Regions from separate parts of the Homo sapiens genome. Here region 1 is linked to region 2. Evidence: fine-mapped expression QTL. A gene starts in region 2. The other region holds a variant in brackets. All regions are shown on one strand. Distances are from middle to middle.

Region 1 (9,460 bases), 84 kb before region 2:
TAATCCCAGCTACTCAGAAGGCTGAGGCAGAAGAATCACTTGAACCCGGGAGGCAGAGGTTGCAGTGAGCCAAGATCGCGCCACTGCATTCTAGCCTGGGCAACAGAGTGAGACTCCGTCTCAGAAAAACAAACAAACAAACAAACAAACATGGGGGGCCTGTAAGCTCCTTTTCTCAGAGAGTTCCTCAGTCAAACACAGAAGCTCCAGCTCTTCTACCTTTGCCCAAAGTGCAGCTGAAGTGCACACTGTGACAAGTGCAGACCACAAATGAAACCGGCATGTGGAACAAGATGGCGGTCAGTACCCTCCTGCTGCATCTGAACTTCAGTTCCTGCAGAAGTCATTCATTCCAGGATAGAAACCAATTTGAGGAGAAACAGAATTAAGTAAGTTACTAGGGGCCTAGTTAGGTGCAAGTCATTTTATTTTATACTTATAACGATTTTTTTTTTCTTTTTACACCTTCACTGCTGGAAAAACTTGGTTTTTTAAACATAATAAAATGACTGCCAGAGGCAAATATTGCATTAGTTTTGTTTCTGAATTTTCTCCCCAAAATATTAAGAAACTCAAATGTTTCTCTTTTGTTAAATTTTTTCATTTGCTATTCTCGATTTTAAAATATATACAGCTAAAATGTTAATATTAGGGTTTTCTTTAATATAGCAGAAAACTAGATTACGGCTAGATAAATAATTTCAACCTAAATGTAGGTAGCTTTTTAAGCAGGTTATCATTTTCCCAATACCCAAGAGTCAATGAGGAGACTGATGTTTTGATTTAAAGGATATACTCTCATAATTCAAAAAATAACTCTCCTAGAAATCTGAATATTTGGCAAATGCATTTAAACATAATTCTCTTTCCATAATGACATTGCACTTTTTAAAGCTGAGGAGGAAGCTATGAATGTATTGTGGGCAGAATATACACAAATTAGAAACAAGTACCTGCCTGATCTGCTTGGCAAGTGACTAATCCCTCAACATGTGACGATCCACGCACTCTATGTGAATAAAATATTAGCTAAAAGAGCCCATACAGGCTGGGTGTGCTGGCTTACCCCTATAATCCCAGTACTTTGAGAGGCCAAGGTGGGAGGATTGCTTGAGGCCAGAGTTTGAGATGAGCCTAAGCAACACAGTGAGACATCAATTTCTGAAAATAAATAAATAAATAATTTTTTAATGTAAAGAGTCCATAGAGTCATGAAGAGTTTATTTCAGACACAAAGTTTTTTTTTTAATCCCTCATCAAAAGAATCAAAGAGATTATTTATCAAAGTTGTACTTACAAATTCATCTGAACTTGAACCCTGTCTGGATTCAAAGCCCAGCTCCATTGCTTACCAGCTATCAACATGGGCAAACAAATTATTTGTGCCTTAGCTATATCATCTGTCACACAGAAATAAGGGTATCCACTTCATATAGTATTATCAAATAGTCAAAATGAAACTCATAGAAGCAGAGAGTACAATGATGGTTACCAAGGGCTGTAGGAAGAAGGTATTGGAGAGATATTGGTCAAAAGATACAAAATTTCTGTTAAGAGGAATAAGTTCAAGAGATCTATAATCAACATGGTGACCATAGCTAATAACATGTATTGCATACTTGTAAGTGTTCTTACCAAAAAAAAAAGAGTATGTGAGATAATGCCTATATGTTAATTAGCTTGATTAACCCATGCCACAATATATAAACATCATGTTGGTGGGGCACAGTGGCTCACACCTGGAATCCTAGCATTTTGGGAGGCCAAAACGGGCAGATGCTTGAGCCCAGGAGTTTGAAACCAGCCTGGGCAACACAGTAAAACCCTGTCTCTATTAAAAATGTAAAAATTAGCCTGGCATGGTGGCATGTGCCTATAGTCCAGGCTACTAGCGAGGCTGAGGTGGGAGGATCATTTGAGCCATTGAACTCCAGCCTGGGCAACAGCCAGATCCTGTCTAAAAAAATAATAATAAAATAAAATAGTTGTTTCCCATAAATACATGCAACTTTAATTTTCCTATTTATTTTGTCAAAATAAATTAAAACTTTTTAAATCCCTCAGTAGAATCACAAAACGCCAAAATTGGAAAGGCCAGTAGAGATTATTTTTGTCAAGGTCTCTGTTTACAGATATGAAAACTAAGGCCTTGAGGTGTTGAATAAATTGCTCAAAATCTGTGTTAGAAAATGGCAGAGGTGAAGCCAAGCTCAGGTCTCCCAATTCCTAATCCAATGAGCTTTCTAGACGATTGCAGTGCTTCTCAATTTGCCTGGCCAAAGGACAGCATGGCATTGTTAAACATACTGGAGACTCTGGCTCAACAGGGCTTTGGAAGGGTCTGGGAATCTCTAATTTTAACGAAAGTTCCAAGCAGTTCTTAAAGTTAGTCAAGTATAGGAATCACCTCGCCTCCTTAACCTGATGGTGCAATCTGACCACTCAGCTACTGTCAGTTTCTCTTAATAAATTGAGGGACTGGGATTAGAGGGGGGTGCGGGCCACACAGCCACCAACATCCTCTCTAGCATGTGGTATGTGTCAATGAAAGCAAATCTTATGCCAATTTCGCCAAACATTTATGAGTAGTCAGACACAAAAACAGCCATACAACCTATTCTTATGCAGTCAGTCAGACACGGTGGCTCACACCAGTAATCCCAGCTCTTTTGGGAGGCCAAGGAGGGAGGATCGCTTGAGCCCAGGAGTTCCAGACCAGCCTGCACAACGTATGGAAACCTCATCTCTTTTTAAATTAAAAAAAAAAAAAGAAGAAGAAGACGAAGTGCAGTGAACACTCTGTCTTTAGAACTCTGACAAGTGCCTTGCGTTCTGAGGAAGAAGCAAAGATATTCTGACATCAGGACCAGCCAACCCTCTGGTTAGGTGAGGGGACAGTCTGTTGTGAGGTATGAGAATGCATCTCAACACCTAAAATACTCCTCAGAACTATGAGCCTACTGTGTCTGCCAAATTCTCAGTCCTGTTTATGCAAAGACTGTATTTGCAAATGTACAATGTTAAATATGTACAATTATTATGTATCAATTAAAAAGTAATAAGTGTGTATAATATAACCTGGCCTTCCCTCCTATCTCACAAGGTTTTTCATCAAGTAATAAATATGAATGATACTTTTTCAATCATAAAAGTCTTAATTATAAAAAGAAACAAATTATGAACTTCGAAAAGTTCACTGTGCTAAGTAAAAAAAGCCAGGCACATGATTCCATCTGTATGAAATGTCCAGAAAAGTCAAATCTATAGAGGCAGAAAGTAGATCAGTGGTTGCCTAGGAATGGGAGGGTTGACAGGAAATGGGGAATAACTAGTTATGAGTATGGGGTTTCTTTTGGGGTGATAAAAATGTTCTAAAATTGTGGTAATGGTTGCACAACTCTGTGAATACACTAAAAACCCCTAAATTGTACACTTTTTTTTTTTGGGGACACAGAGTCTTGCTCTATCTCCCAGGCTGGGGTGCAGTGGCGCCATCTCGGGTCACTACAATATCCACCTCCTGGGTTCAAGTCATTCTCATGCCTCAGCCTCCCAAGTAGCTGAGATTACAGGCATGTGCCCCTATGCCCAGCTAATTTTTGTATTTTTAGTAGAGACAGAGTTTCGCCATGTTGGCCAGGCTGGTCTCGAACTCCTGGCCTCAAGTGATCGGCCCACCTTGGCCTCCCAAAGTACTGTAATTACAGGTGTGAGCCACTCCACCCGGCCAAACAGTATGCTTTAAGTGGGTGAATTGTATGGTGTGTAAATTTTATTTCAACAAAACTATTTTTAAAGAGAAAGAAAACCCAATCACACAGGGCTTAAAAATAAAAACAGGGGCCAGGCACAGTGGCTCACGCCTGTAATCTCAGCACT[T/C]TGGGAGGCCGAGGCGGGTGGATCACGAGGTCAGGAGTTCAAGACCAGCCTGGTCAAGATGGTGAAACCCCATCTCTACTAAAAATACAAAAATTAGCCAGGCATGGTGGTGGGCATCTGTAATCCCAGCTACTCAGGAGGATGAGGCAGGGAATTGCTTGAACCCGGGAGGCAGAGGTTGCAGTGAGCTGAGATCACGCCACTGCACTCCATCCTGGGCGACAGAGTAAGGCTCCATCTCAAAAAAATTAAAATAAAAATAAAAAAATAGAAACAGACTATTTGATCGAGTGTCTATTGATTTCTGCTTAGCAAAGTCTGTTTTGATATTTACAGAGCCAAGATGTAACTATTCACATTGCTGGCTGTTGTCACTATTTTCCATGAGAACTTACTGTGTCAGCAAAATTAATGAAGTCTGACTTTTACAGACAGGAGCAGAGATTGGTGGTTAAGCACTAAACATTAAAGGCAGAAAGTTTACATTTTTATTTTTGTAAAGTAATTGTCTCGATCACTTACATTGGTAGCAGTATTGTATTTTTAGTATTGTATTTTTGTACTTGTACTTAGTATTGTATTTAGTACTGTATTTTTAGTAGGGACGGGGTTTCAACATATTGGCCAGGCTAGTCTTGAGCTCCTGGCCTCAACTGATCCACCTGCCTCAAAAGATCCATCCTCCTTCCTCCCTAAGGTTTTTATAGTTATTCTTCCTGACAGTAAGCACTAAGTCACTAAGTATTAATTCAATTCAAACATCTATTGAGCTATCACATCCAGGCATTGTTCTAAGCTCTAGAAAAACAAAGACTCGGCCATCCTGGACCTCAAAGGTCCTGCTGTCTGGCAGAGGGGTGCAGAAGTCCCCTTGGTAAATGTGGTGATCGAGGTGAACCAATGCCATGGGAACAGCCCCTCAACCTGGGGGTGTCAGGGAAAGAAAGTAGGAGTCTTCAATGAACAGAATAATAACATGCATTCTCCCCAAGGCATGACAAAAAATTATTTTGGATAACTTTCTACCCATGAGATTTTGAGGAATGGCAAACTTGATGAAATACCTCTCAGGATCATTGAGGCCAGCAGGGCCAGCCCACAGGACTAAAATACTGTCTCTGTATTGCAAAGAGTGTTTATACATTTTTTTAAATTGTTCCACTGACATTCTCACATCCTTTCTTATGGTAGAAAGCTATTATTGGTCACTGAAATATGCTGTCCCCAACTGCTAGAGGCTTTTGGTAAACTGCTGGATTCTGTTAATTGCTCCTGGGGAGACTCATTAAATGGTTTATCTGACAAGAAGGGTGGAATTAACGGTCACAGTTATCCTTAGGACTGTTTAAGGAACATATCTAAACTTTGCTCCCCATTTCCACACCTTTTTTTTTTTTGAGACAGTCTCGCTAATTTTTGTATTTTTGGTAGAGACGGGGTTTCGCCATGTTGGCCAGGCTGATCTTGAACTCCTAGCCTCAAATGATCCGCCCACCTTGGTCTCCCAAAGTGCTGGGATTACAGGCATGAGCCACTGTGCCTGGCTCCACACTCTTCTAAAGGGAAGGAACACAGGCAGTGGGACGACAGGCGAGACAATCAGAAGGTTTGGGCTTCAGGCCCGGATGTGTCATTACCCACAGCCTAACCTGGGGTGAATTAACTGCAATGCTGTTGGACTGGATTTCCTCTCTGGGTAAGAATTCACGAAATGGATGGCCTTTACGGTCAATTCCAAGTCTAAAAGTCTAGCCATCCATACTAATGGAGTATGATATTCTGAAGACCTGCCTAAAATGGCAGAACAACTTCAAACTGTAGTTTTTACACAGAAACAAGGTTTGAGGCATTGTTTTAAAAGAATCCTAACAGATGGTAATGCATAGGCATTTCACTGCTTTTAAGCACATAAAAAAGCAAAGTGTGTGAAGGTGAAAGAAACCACAAAAATTAATGTCTTGATAGTCAGCTTTCTTCTCTACATGTACATTTATACTCAGGCATAATTATATTCAATAAAAAGCCTTCTTGCATGATTATTAAAAAAAAAAAAATGGGGCCACGTGTGGTAGCTCACACCTGTAATCCCAGCACTTTGGGAGGTCGAGGCAGGTGGATCGCCTGAGGTTGGGAGTTAAAGACCAGCCTGACAAACATGGCGAAACCCTGTCTCTACTAAAAATACAAAAATTAGCCGGGCGTGGTGGCGGGCGCCTGTAATCCCAGGTACTCTAGAGGCTGAGGCAGGAGGATTGCTTGAACCCAGGAGGCGGAGGGTGCAGTGAGCTGAGATTGCACCACAGCACTCCAGCCTGGAAGACAGGTATGAAATCACAACCACTTAAGATTCAAACAAACTTGTGAAAAGTTTTGAAAAGAGTTATTTCAGTTACTGTAATTAGAACAACCTTAGTTAATATGGAGAATTTGGGGGATTTCTGGCTATGGACAGTAGCCTATTGGGGCATATGTACTAAAGAACAGAGAAAAGTGATACATTTAAATGTAAAACCAAACTAGTAAAGGAAGGAGTTCTTGACCTTCAGGGAGTTTCCTCTTGTTTTTTAATTCCCACAATAGATCAGTTCACCTATCAATCAGATCTCCCTCATCACATTCTTTGTCAAGGGTAAAATTCTGGTTCTCCCACGTACCTACACCCTAGACAGAAAACGCATAGAAGCAACTCGTGATTGCCGCATAGACCATGACATCCTACTAGGACAGTGTATCCTACCATATGCATGAAGTCATCACTCACATTAAGTAGATATATTCTGATTATGTCAACAACCTTATGAGATCACTTTGATTCCTCCCCACTGATTTTTTTTTCTTGGAGGGGGACGCTCTCCCAGGTTGGGAACTGTCCACAATTCATATGAATGTGTTGACGGCACAATCAAAGAGATGAACGCAAAAATGTAAAACTGCCACGAATTAATTATACAACTTGGAGAAAGATGTATTATAGCAAGCAATCTCACTGAAATTAAATAATTGAAAATTTTGAACTCTTAGGCTGTAAGGTAGTTAAAATATAGCTAAGTTTTTCTAGCTAGCTGGAAAACGAGCTATTCGAGATTGCATATGAAGTGATTCTAGGAGAAAAAACTATTTCATCCAGAGCTGCTGAAATCTAGGCGTGTGTTACATCAACATCTCCCCTCCCACCCAGCAATCCATCAACCATCTCCAATTTATTCTTTACACTTAGGATTATGACCAAGTTCACGTACTTAAAAGGGAGAAACCACAGAGACATCACACTGAAAGTTTCTCTGCTTTGGGCCAGCAGGAAATTCCAGTTGCTTCATTCACCGGAGCCAGTTAAGCTGCTGAAATGAAATGGATCACCGGAGAGATCACTATATCAGGACATAGACTTGACTTTCAGGGTTGGAGGAAGCCGGACAAAGATGAATGGGATTCAGAGCCTGAACTCAAGGTCAACGTCTTCTGAATCACAAAGAGCTGGTGGGTCAGTCTGGGAGAAGAAAGAAAATTCTGCGCCAAATGGGAAAACCCTTAAAGTCTGCATAGTTTTGCTTGTCGGTAAGAACACAGGTAGGCGGCGGGAAGAGAGGTGGCAAGCAGCCCCAACGCTCGCCGAGATCCCCAGGGTTTTACAAACGGATCGTCCTGAAGTCTCCAAAACTGTAACTACTATATGCCCAAATTTATATTCTCCCCTGGCTTTTCCAACAGGCTACCTGCCTGTGACAGTTTTCCCACGAACTTGGCTCTCCTCTGTCTACAGCGCCCCGGGGTCTCCCAAACAGACAGACACAGACAGACAGAAGGAGCAGACAAGGGGACTGTCCAATTCCCACCCTCCGCGCCCACTCTCTCGAGGTAGCCAAGACCCTCCAGGAGTCCGAAAGTCACAGAGCGCTCTGCGCCCCTGCCACCTGCCCAGCCTCCCGCTGGGGTCCGGCAGTCCCCACTGGAGACCCCGACATCGCGGGGCTCCGCGGCCCCCGCGCCGACCCAGGGCCGCCAGGGGGCGGGCGGGAGCAGCTCTCCGGGTGCCTCCCCCGCCGGTTCCCCTCCCCCGGCCCGCCGGCCACTCACGGATTTTCACTCGGCGGTGGTCCAGGCGCGCAGCGGCGGCTTGCAGGGCGTCGAGGCGGCGGTGCAGCGCGGCGGTGCGGTGGCCCAGCGCGGCCGCCTGGCCCTCGAGCTCGCCGAAGATGTCCCCGGCGCAGCGCGACAGGTCGGCCAGCTGCGCCAGCAGGCAGCCCAGGGCATGCGAGCTGACCTGCTCCAGCGAGCGGAAGAGTGGCGCGCCCGCAGCCCCGGCCCCCGCCGCCTCGGGCCGGCGCAGCCGCGCGGGCTCCAGGGTCCTCTGGTGGAAGGGCATGGCGGGGGCGGGCCGGCGGCGCGGGATCCCTCAGTCTGCCTCCCGTCGGCGCGGGGCGCCAGCCTGCATCCAACACAAAGGAAGTCCCGGGCAGCGGCGGGGCGCCGAGGGAAGCCTGGCGGCCCCTGCCCGCAGGGGAGAGGCCGGGCGGGCAGGAAGGACGGACGGACGGACGGGCGCGCGGGCGAGCGGGCACCCGGGCGGCGCGGGGCAGGAATGGGGTCCGAGCCGTGGCTGCCTGGCGCCCGGCGGCGTTCCTCCACCCGCAGGGCTTCGCGGGCCGCGCGGCGAGAGGAAGTTCCAGGGGCAGCTCTGGGCGGCGGCGGCCGCGGCGGCGAGGGGAGCCGCGAGTCCCGCTGAAGTTTGCAGGCGGGCAGGAAAGCGCCGGCTGCTCCTTCCCTCCCTCCGGATTGGAGAGGGAGGAGGAAGCGAGGGAAGTGCCGCCGACACCGGGCGAGAGGGAGGGGAGGCGAAAGAAAGGAAAGGGGGAGGAGAAAAGGGCCGGCCCGGGAACCACCTGCGGCTCCCGCGGCTGCCGCGCCCAGCGCCCGCAGCCAGTGGCGGCCCCGGCGCCTCAGCGCACCCTGTCGGGGCGGGTGCGGGCGCACAGTCCCGGGACGCCCACGTCGCCGCCCCAACTCCCCTTGGCAGCCCCCGGGCGGTGGGGCAGAGCCCTCGCCCGCCCCCCGGGCCGGGGTGCAGCGCAGTGCGGGCGCCGGGAGGGCGGAGGCGCCAGGACGGCCGCGGCCAGCTCCGCTCGCTCTGCTCACCTGCGCCCCTGCCCACGGCGCTCCGCAGTCAGGAGCGCCCCGCCCCGCGGGGAACGCCCCGGGCCCCTCGGGGTCCCCCTGCTCTCTCCTACTTCCCTTCTGGAAGGTGGCCAACACTTCTGGGCCGCCCGGGTGGACCTCAAATAGAACGTCTTTAAATGTCCGGTGGCCAAGGGTTCTGTAGCCGACTAGGAGTCAGCGTCCGACTCGGAACAACTCAAGACCTCTTTTCAGGGGGCGTCCAGTGAGTTTTTTTCAGCAAGGTGACTCCCCCTGTGGCTGCCTGCTACTACAGCTGGAAAGGTCCAAGCTGAAATGTGACTAATCTGAGTTTCTTCCACCAAGCATGTTAGTTAGGGGTGGAGGACTAGAACCTAGAACCCTGAATTCGAGCCTGGAAGATATGTAAGCCACATGCTATTGAGATCGTGGTCATGGGACACCCGCT
Region 2 (9,369 bases):
TGGGAGGCTGAGGCGGGGGGATCACGAGGTCAGGAGATGGAGACCTTCCTGGCCAACATGGTAAAATCCCGTCTTTACTAAAAATACAAAAATTAGCTGGGTGTGGTGGCACCTGCCTGTAATCCCAGATATTCAGAAGGCTGAGGCACGAGAATCGCTTGAACTTGGGAGGCGGAGGTTGCAGTGAGCCAAGATTCTGCCACTGCACTCCAGCCTGGTGACAGAGTGAGACTCTGTCTCAAAAAAAAAAAAGTGTACAGCCTGGAGTAGACAAGAGATGGGGTTTCCCCCAACTCCCGGTCTGGTGCACTTTCCATGACACCATACCATGCTCCTCCATAAATGGTGGCTCCCAGCTCTTCACCACGTGGTTCTTCCTTTCACTATTAACAGTTCCCAAAAGGCTTGCTCATCTACAATAGCACAGCTCTGAAGGCCTTCAGTGCTGGATAGTTCAGATCCAGTCTCTTGGCACCCTTTTTAGAGGGTGTCTCAAGGAATCTTACCAAGTTTTATAATAGTAGTCATAGTACAGTATGGCTTTTGAAATAACTTATTTTTTCAGGTCTGAGCTGTAAAGCAAGCCTATATAACACCTCACTATGGCCCATTTCTCTTAACTGGCCTTCCTGTTTCCATTCTTCTATAGAATAATCTTTTAAAAATGTAACTTAGACCATGTCATGCCTTAAAACTCTCCAATGCCTATTGCTGTGCTTAGGGGAAAAAATACAGATTTCTTATATTGGTTTAAAAAACCCTTCCTGACCTGACCCTCTGGCAACCTTGGGGACTTCATCTCATACTACTTCTTGTCCCCCTGCACTCCAGACCACTACGCTGGCATTCTTTCAGTTCCGTGAACATGCCGAGCTCATTTCTGCTTTATGACTTCTTATCTTTTTTCTTAGCTGTTTCCTGAGCCAGACACGCAAAGAAGCATTAAGCAGTTACTATCTTGGCCAAGGCATTCCGGCATCAGGGGAAATGGAAGTGGAAGCACACTTAGAAAATGATGGATAGGCTTCTGGGTAAAAACAAACAAAAACAAGAAACAAACAAAAAACATCTCTTCCCTATAAGAACCACAAAGGACAATACAGGAATGACTGTGCTTCAGGCACTGAGAGTATCCATTTGCTTTGAGATACCTGCCTTCCCCTTTAGAGCAACAGTCCCCAATCTTTTTGGCACCAGGGACCAGTTTAGTGGAAAACAATCTTTCCATGGATGGGGCGGGGTGGGGGTTGGGGATGAAACTGAAACTGTTCCACCTGAGATCATCAGGCTTTCGTTAGATTCTCATAAGGACCACCGCCCACCTAGATCCCTTGCATGCGCAGTTCACATTAGGGCTCAGGCTCCTATGAGAATCTCATGCCACTGCTGATCTGACAGTAGGTGGGAGCTCAGGTGGTAATGCTCCCTCACTGGCTGCTCACCTCCTGCTGTGTGGCCCAGTTCCTAACAGGCCACGGACTAGTTCCAGTCTACAGCTGGAGGCTGGGGACTCCTGCTTTCATAGCGCCCTAACTTTCTGAAGGGAAAGGACAATGCATGTTTGTAGCTCAACTAATGAGGCTGTACAAGAGAGGCTTCCAAACCCATTCATCACCTGAGGACCTTACAGAAAGAGAGGTTCCTGACTCAAGTAAAATGTGAAAAAAGTTATGACACTTCTGATTCGAATGGAAACTTGAATACTTACTGAATATTTAATAACATTAATCATTCATTGCTGCTTAGGAATCATAAAGGCATTGTGGTGAAGTCTTTAAAAGTTTTAATCTTTTAGCAATCTATATTAAAATATTAGGGATTAAATTATATCTGAGATTTACTTCAACATAATACTAGAGACTGAAAAATGTCAGAAGAGGGGCTTTTTTTTTTTACAGGTTTCATCTGAATACATATTTATCAGATCAATATTACAGGTTATCACATTATCTACTACATACAGCTTTGCAAGACAGAAATCACAGTTTTCTGGCCAAGGTATGAAATGATTGCATTGTATATACAATGTACAAGGACAATGACAGTTTCTGGGTGATTTACTTCTAGCTGCACTTGTGGGTGTGTTTACGCGTGTCCATGTGAATCACCTGAGATTATGATATCAAAAATTTATAAGTATAAATTCGGTTATAATTTTCTTCTCAAATGCCTGTTTCTTTTCTTATCCTCATAGCACCCTAAAAAATAACATAACAAAAATTCCATTCCATAAAGGATCAGGGTCAACGTCACTGGTAACAGCTATAATCGACATCATTGGCCAGGGGTTAATGGCTGGATGAGGGATTCATTATAGTCTTCTGTCTTCCTCAGTATATGTTTGAAATTTTCCATAAGACAAATTTTTTTTAAATAGAGATTTCTGGGCCCCCAGCAGATTTTTCTCTCAATGGCTCTCCACTGCCACTACTAGGAAATTCGCCAGCAGTATTCCTCCTTACCTACCTATGCTATACAATGTATGAGTACTGGGAGGCAGGGGAAGGGTCTTGTTAATCAAAGCTCCCATCCTCTAAATATAATCCTCAGGAAGAAAGTATATGATTGGAGTAATTTATACAAGGTCTGCATTTAACAGTTAATCCAAAGAATGGATGCTTACAGTTTAAAGGAATTAAAGGAAAATCTAGAAAATCTGAAAGATCATTTCTCTCAGGGAGGAACTCTAGATTTTAGATTAAAGAAATCACACTTGAAACTGTACCTCTACAACAACTCTATCTTGCGTCACTCTGTCCCTAGCCCAGTACAATTCACCTCACTAACCCTCTGCTTCCTCAAACATGTTAAAGTTCATTTTGCCTAATGGCCTGCATTTTAGCCGTATGTTCTATTCAAGAATGCTTCTTTTCTTCTCCTTCTCCTTCTTATTTTTTTTTTATTTTTTTGAGACAGGGTCTCATTTTGTAACCCAGGCTGGAGCACAGTGACATGATCATGGCTAACTGCAGCCTTGACCTCCTGGGTTCAGGTGATCCTCCCACTTCAGCCACTCAAGCAGCTGGGACTACAGGCCTGCATCACCATGCCCAGCTAATTTTTGTATTTCTTGTAAAGACAGGGTTTTGCTATGTTGCCTAGGCTGGTCTCCAGCTCTTAGGTTCAAGCTATTTGTCTGCCTCAGCCTCCCAAAGTGCTGGATTACAGGCAAAAGCCACCGTGCCTGGCACTCAAGGACTCATTTTCCTCAGATCATTCCATGGCTGGCTCATGCACTTTATTCATATCTCTACCTCAAAGCTGCATTTTCGGGAAGGCCTTCCCTGATACTTCTCCTTCAGTACAAACTACTTTTGACCTTAAGCTGTTATTTCAGGACTCTCATCTGACTAAATGAAACTATTTTATTTGCATACTAATTTATTGTCAGTCTCTTATATCGGGAATATAAGATCTCTGACTATAAAGCTCTTGTACCTTTTGTTGATAGATGCATCCTGACCTCCTATCACAGGGTGTGGCTAAAATAGGGACTTAAAATAGGTATTCAAAACCTGAATACCTATTTCTGAATACCTGAAACATGTCCATTTAGAAGGGTACTTTCCTGTGTCCCTACATCATGTTGGAGGTTGTAAACACAAATGCTACAGGGCTCAGATGGGTACTAAAGACAAAGAAAAACTAGATATTACTTGAACTGAGGTAAAGGAGGCAGATGCTTTCCAGCTTGAACCATTGTTGCCAGGCTACAATGCACATCTAACGTAGTCAGATCTTCCCGTTAATTCATGGGATGCCACATTGTTTTTATTCTTTCAATTTTAGCTGTTAGCAACCAATTTGAAAAAAAAAAAAGTAGCATGTGAATCACCAGTTGCAAGCTCTGTTCATACAAATAAGACAATTCGACATTAATTAAAAGGAGAAACTGGGAAAAGATATTGAGCAGACTGTACAGTAGTGTTTGTAATGGTGAAAAATGGGAAACAACCTAAACATCCATCACTATGGGAATTCCCAAATAATTTGTGACAAATCTATTTGATAAAGTCTAGCTATATTTATCAATGTGGATAGCTCTCAAAAACACAGAATTTGGTGAAAAAATCAAGTTGCAGATCAATACACAAAATATAATAGCATTCATGTAAAACTTCAAATGCCCCAAACCATTCTACATATTGTTTATAATACATAGTAATAGTTTAAATATAGAAACCTAGATTGGCAAGATACATATCAAATTCATGATCCTGGTTGCCTCTCTGAGGGTGGTAGTAGAATGGGACTGAGAATAGGGAACACCTTCTTTATCTGTAATGCTCCATTTCTTTCATTCATAAATCTGTTCGTTCTGGATAGTGGGTGCGTTGTTTATTCTGTGCTTTTTTTTTTTAACATTTCAATAGTTTTGTTTTTTTTTTTTAAATGGCGGGTGGCGGAAGAACATCCTATCCTAGAAGCCAAGAGACTGGGGTTGTCTTTGCTCTGCCTTTTCTGGCATGGATACAATCTCTAGATATGGTTTCCCCATTAGCTAATGCGGGGGGTGCTATGTGGTGTTCCTCCAGAGTCCCTTCAATCTAAGGACCTGTGAATCTAAAACCTTCCCACCTCCCACTCCAACACCGGGAAGGCTACCCAGACCAGGCAATGAAACGTGCATTTCTTCCCTCATTTAAGATAGATCTCTTTCTCTCAGCCTGCAATTCCTTCTCCAGAGGCTTTAAGTATAGTGGAAGTAGAACTATCTTTGACGACAGAGAGACACCTGCATCAATTAGCCTTTCTGAGCCTCAAATTCCCCATTTGTAAAACAGAGAGTATAACACCTACCCATAAAATTGTAGAGAGGTTTAGATACACCGTTATGTGTAGGGCCCGAACAGAGTAGCTATTAATAGTGGTAACAGACTCTCAATTAGGGGCTCAACATCATGGTCGCTGAACAGAATCACGGTCGCTGAACAGAATCACACTCTTCACGCCGCCTTGGAGCCAAAATTAGTTTAGCCGCGAGAAGTCCGGGCAACCAATCGGAAACAACCAAGGAACAGTTGCATGGCGACACTCTGGTTCCGCCTTCGGGCATGCTCGAACAGCATTCTGGGAATTGTAGTTCGGGGGGGGAATCTAACACTCACCGAGGGGCGGAGTAGCTTCCGGAAAGGGTACTGCATTTCCCGTTTCTACCTCCACTGCACCCGCTTATTGCGTCTTGCTCCTGGGTCACAGAGCCTAAAACGACACACCCAACACGCCCGCCGGAGTTACAGCTAAAGGAAGGACAGGGGAAGCAATGAAATGCCGAGGGCGGAGCCAAGAGCGACACTGGGGGAGCAGGAAAAGGCGGGGCTTCCGCTTGGGGCATGGAGGCTGTACCTCTTACGTCACTTCCGTAAACAAACGGAGCTGCGGAGGAGCGGGTCCCGGGATGTGACCGGGGCTCTGCTTGTGGCTGCGGCGGTGGCTTCTGAGGCTGTCGGGTCTTTGCGGGTTGCGGAAGGGGGCCCCAATACCCTTCTTCTTCAGGTATGTAGTGGAAGCAAAGGAACCTCCGCAACCTGCCCCTTTAGGCCCTTCCCACCACTCTGGTCACTGCTGGGTACTGGGCGGTGAAGGGTCATCGCTTCGGTAGATTGGGGAAGGGGAATGAGGTGATGTCAAGAGGGATGCCCAGTGGTACTGCTTGGAGGCAAGACCTGGCACTTAAAACCACTGTGTGAATAAGTAACTATGAGCAGTTTACTTATTATGCCTTCTCTAAAACATTCTTTGCTGTTTGATATACAGGAAGGGTTTCAGTGCTCTTGTGACAGATGTAATTTTCCAAAAACGAGGAAATCGCGAGTGCTGGCTCCGCAGAATATTGTGGTTTAGACCACCACTGGTTTATTTGCATTGCTTTACTTCCTAGATTTTTTTTTCTTGTACCACCAAGTGTGTATTAGCATCGTTAAATTTCAGGCCAGCGTGTTTATGCGTATCATACATTTTTACAGATCCTTGCCTCTTCAGAGAACTAATCGTCTCTATTCAGTCATCTTTCAAACTCTCATTTAATTTGTGTTGCATGTTGAAACAACACCAGAATTATTGTTCTGTTACAAAAAATGCTTCTTAAAAGAAAAATTGTTAGCCAAGGTTTAAGTGGATTGACACCCAGTGGTATCTGGGATTAGAGACTGGGCATTGGAGCCTTTCCCAGAAAGCCTCTTCTTTGGCAGTATTGTAGCTCCAGTTGTAATTGTCTAGCGTCAGCCAATTTAAGCTCAGTGGTTTAAATTCCAGTGCCAGTGGCACTAAGTCCAGGCAAAAGGAAAAAGAAAAATTTATTGAATTCATCAAATAATTATTTTAAGCGACAGCAATGGGTTTGAATCTTTTTGAATGGTCATGGCATGCCTAAATTAAACACAGCATGCCAAAAACGGCCTAATGTTTCTAGAAGGCAATTTACAACCTGATGAGGTAGAGATAGCCATATAAATTCATCTTATGATATATGAAATAATGAAGTTAAGAAAAATTTAACACTATGCACAAATAAAGTATGGAAGGGGTTTTTTTGTTTTGTTTTGTTTTGTTTTGTTTTGTTTTTGAGACGGAGTCTCGCTCTGTCGCAGTGGCACCATCTCGGCTCAGGGCAAGCTCCGCCTCCCGGGTTCATGCCATTGTCCTGCCTCAGCCTCCTGAGTAGCTGGGACTACAGGCGCCCGCCACCACTCCCGGCTAATTTTTTGTATTTTTAGTAGAGACGGGGTTTCACCGTGTTAGCCAGGATGGTCTCGATCTCCTGACCTCGTGATCCGCCCGCCTTGGCCTTCCAAAGTGCTGGGATTACAGGCGTGAGCCCGGCCGGAAGGGTATTTTTTAAATAGATGGATGTTAGAAAATAGAGCGGATTAATAGATAAAGTAAGGGGATTGTGTAGGGATAACTAGGAGGCCTTACACGTATTCCGCATGGAAGGGCCATCTGTAACTTCACATTGTTAACTTTTTTGATATGGGCAAAACTAAATATATATCATAAAATTCACGTTTGTTTGGAAATGGTTAGAGAAAGTATATTCAAAATAGGCAACGAACAAGTTTGATTTTCTAGAACTTCACTTATCACCAAGCTAGAATCATTATTAGCCCTAGCTAGAAACTGAGTTTCTGTTTAGTAGTTGAAGTAAGGCTTCTAGTTGATTTTTAAAATGCTAGTAAAATCCCTATGACAATTATACATCTGTTTGAATCTACTTGGTTCTTCTTAAGCATACATTTTGGAAGAAAGACCTAAAGGCCACCTGAAGCTTGAATCAGGCTGGGAATATTATGTGGATCATTTGTTTATTGTTTATATGTTGTTCCCCTTGTAAAATGTAGGCTTCTTGAGGTCAAACACCTTGTTCAGTGCCGTCTCTCCAGTACCCACAATAGTGTCTGGCTTGTGGAAGAGAATCAGTAAATATTTGTAGGATGAAGAAATAAAGAAAATGGTAAAACAAAACAAAACAAAAACTGTCTACCAGACAATTTTGCTAGGGGCTTATGGGTACATAGTAGAGTACATTAAACTTAAGAGACCCATTTTCTAACTTTCTCTTATGCCCTCTGGAATTCTTGATCCTCTTTTGACCCTGTGAAATGGGTCTTTGAATTTCTTTCATGTTTGCATATTATAGCATACATATATAATTGCTGTATTCCTTATTTAGGTCTTAAGAAGCTGGCCGTGGTGCAATAAGGAACTTAAAACAATGGAAGAGCGGAAAGTGAAGAGGAGGAGTCCTAAGTCTTTTAGTGCCCACTGTACTCAGGTTGTCAATGCCAAAAAAAATGCCATTCCAGTGAGTAAAAGCACAGGGTTTTCAAATCCTGCATCACAGTCAACTTCACAGCGACCAAAGTTAAAAAGGTGAATTCTTTTATTTTACATGTTCACAGTAAAATGCCATTAAAGTAAATCCTGACTCAACTTCTTCTTAAACACTTTTTTAGTCTTGGCTTGACTTTTAAAACAGTTGAGGCACCCATTATGCGTGATTTAGAAGAAAAATTTATGAAAGTTACGGTGTATAGATATTAGAAAATGCAAAATGAATTATTGGTTTGAAGGCCCTTACTTTGTCTTATATTAAAATATACAAAACAAGAAAACTTTTTGACTGTGTTGATGAGCTAGTCAGAAATGGGAAAAGTGAAAAAGTGAAAGAAAGTCAGCAGGGTTTTTTGTTCTCTTTCTTTCTTTCTCTCTTTTTTCTCTAAGCTGAGTGTTTGTGCCTTGGTAGTTTTCTTAATTTATTTTATTTTACACACACACATATATATATATATTTTTAAATATGGGGTCTCACTGTGTTGCCCAGGCCGGCCTTGAACCTCTGGGCTCAAGGGATCCTCCTGCCTCAGTCTTCTGAGGGGCTGTGACTGTGTGGTGTGACACCACACCCAGCTTGCAGTTTTTATTTCTAAAAAATAATGGTGTCATTGTTTTTGTATAAACTGTGTTTTTTATAAATATTCAAACACAGGAAAAATTCAAAGAAGAAATTCAAAATGCAAAAATTCTACCACCTAGAAATAATCATTATTAATATTTGGTGAACATCATTTGCATTCAGGATATTTAAAGGAAACAGAAGTGACAAGTTTAACTATGTTATATGTTACTGTTACATATATGTGAGTATTTTATAGTATTAGATATTTGGAAGGGAAGATTATAGCTTTAGAGGAAAAAAAGTGTTGTATAATGTCAATCTTCTTTCTAATTATTAAATAAATTTACTCTCACATCCAATCTCACCCTGGCAAGTTAGCTAAGGAAATGCCTGTTGCATTCTGTAGCCGCTGGGTTTACACCTAATAAAAGATGAGATTACTGCCTTGATGATGATCTCTCTTTGTCGAAACAGAAGGGACATAACCAAAGACAAGAGAAGATTTGGAAGAAGTATTCCAATGAGTACCAAATGATAAACAGCAGTTTTGAGGATTTCCTTCGAATAAATTATCAGAATGGGGTTTTTGTCATGGAAGAGTTTAATTAGGGTCAGATTTTGAATAAGTTTACAGTTGGTGGAAAAAGAAAACGAAGAGATTTTAAAAGTAATCACTCCTTTCTCTATATTTTTAAAAGCAGTTTATTTGTATCATTGTCATTTTTATTGGTGGTTTTATTTCCATACCCTCTTGTAGATGTAGGCTTCTGAGGGCCAGGACTCTCTGGATCATCATTGTGTGCCTGACAGAACTTACAGTGGGGCTTTGCACATAGTATTATTTCACTGTGTGCTTGCTTTATTGTTGAATTATGTTAACATAAAGTGAGAGTGTGACATAACATTGAAGCAGGAATAAACAGGTTTTTGTTTTATCTTTTGTGTTTGTTTTCTGAGAGGGTTATTAAATG

What was found. PIP is the estimated chance that this variant, and not a neighbour inherited with it, causes the effect.
Region 1: its variant is fine-mapped to the expression of CCDC28A in whole blood (TOPMed, PIP above 0.99).

Annotation. Positions count from the first base shown.
Region 1 is chr6:138,684,523-138,693,982 of GRCh38, forward strand. LOC124900217 (collagen alpha-1(III) chain) reads left to right here and starts at 8,204. Exons shown (of 2, transcript XM_047419637.1): 1 at 8,204-9,460. The coding sequence starts at 8,241. The coding sequence ends at 9,170. NHSL1-AS1 (NHSL1 antisense RNA 1) reads left to right here and starts at 7,146. Exons shown (of 4, transcript NR_033896.1): 1 at 7,146-7,446. It also overlaps a transcript of NHSL1 not described here. RefSeq lists an enhancer at 6,541-7,740 and silencers at 7,863-7,912, 7,923-8,272, 8,753-8,812, 8,853-8,992. The variant T/C (reference allele first, on the strand shown) is at 3,880.
Region 2 is chr6:138,768,407-138,777,775 of GRCh38, forward strand. CCDC28A (coiled-coil domain containing 28A) reads left to right here and starts at 5,363. Exons shown (of 6, transcript NM_015439.3): 1 at 5,363-5,496; 2 at 7,673-7,872. The coding sequence starts at 7,715. CCDC28A-AS1 (CCDC28A antisense RNA 1) reads right to left here and starts at 5,297. Exons shown (of 3, transcript NR_161205.1): 1 at 5,109-5,297. RefSeq lists enhancers at 4,414-5,088, 5,089-5,762, 5,126-5,175, 5,196-5,255, 5,616-5,675 and 1 more.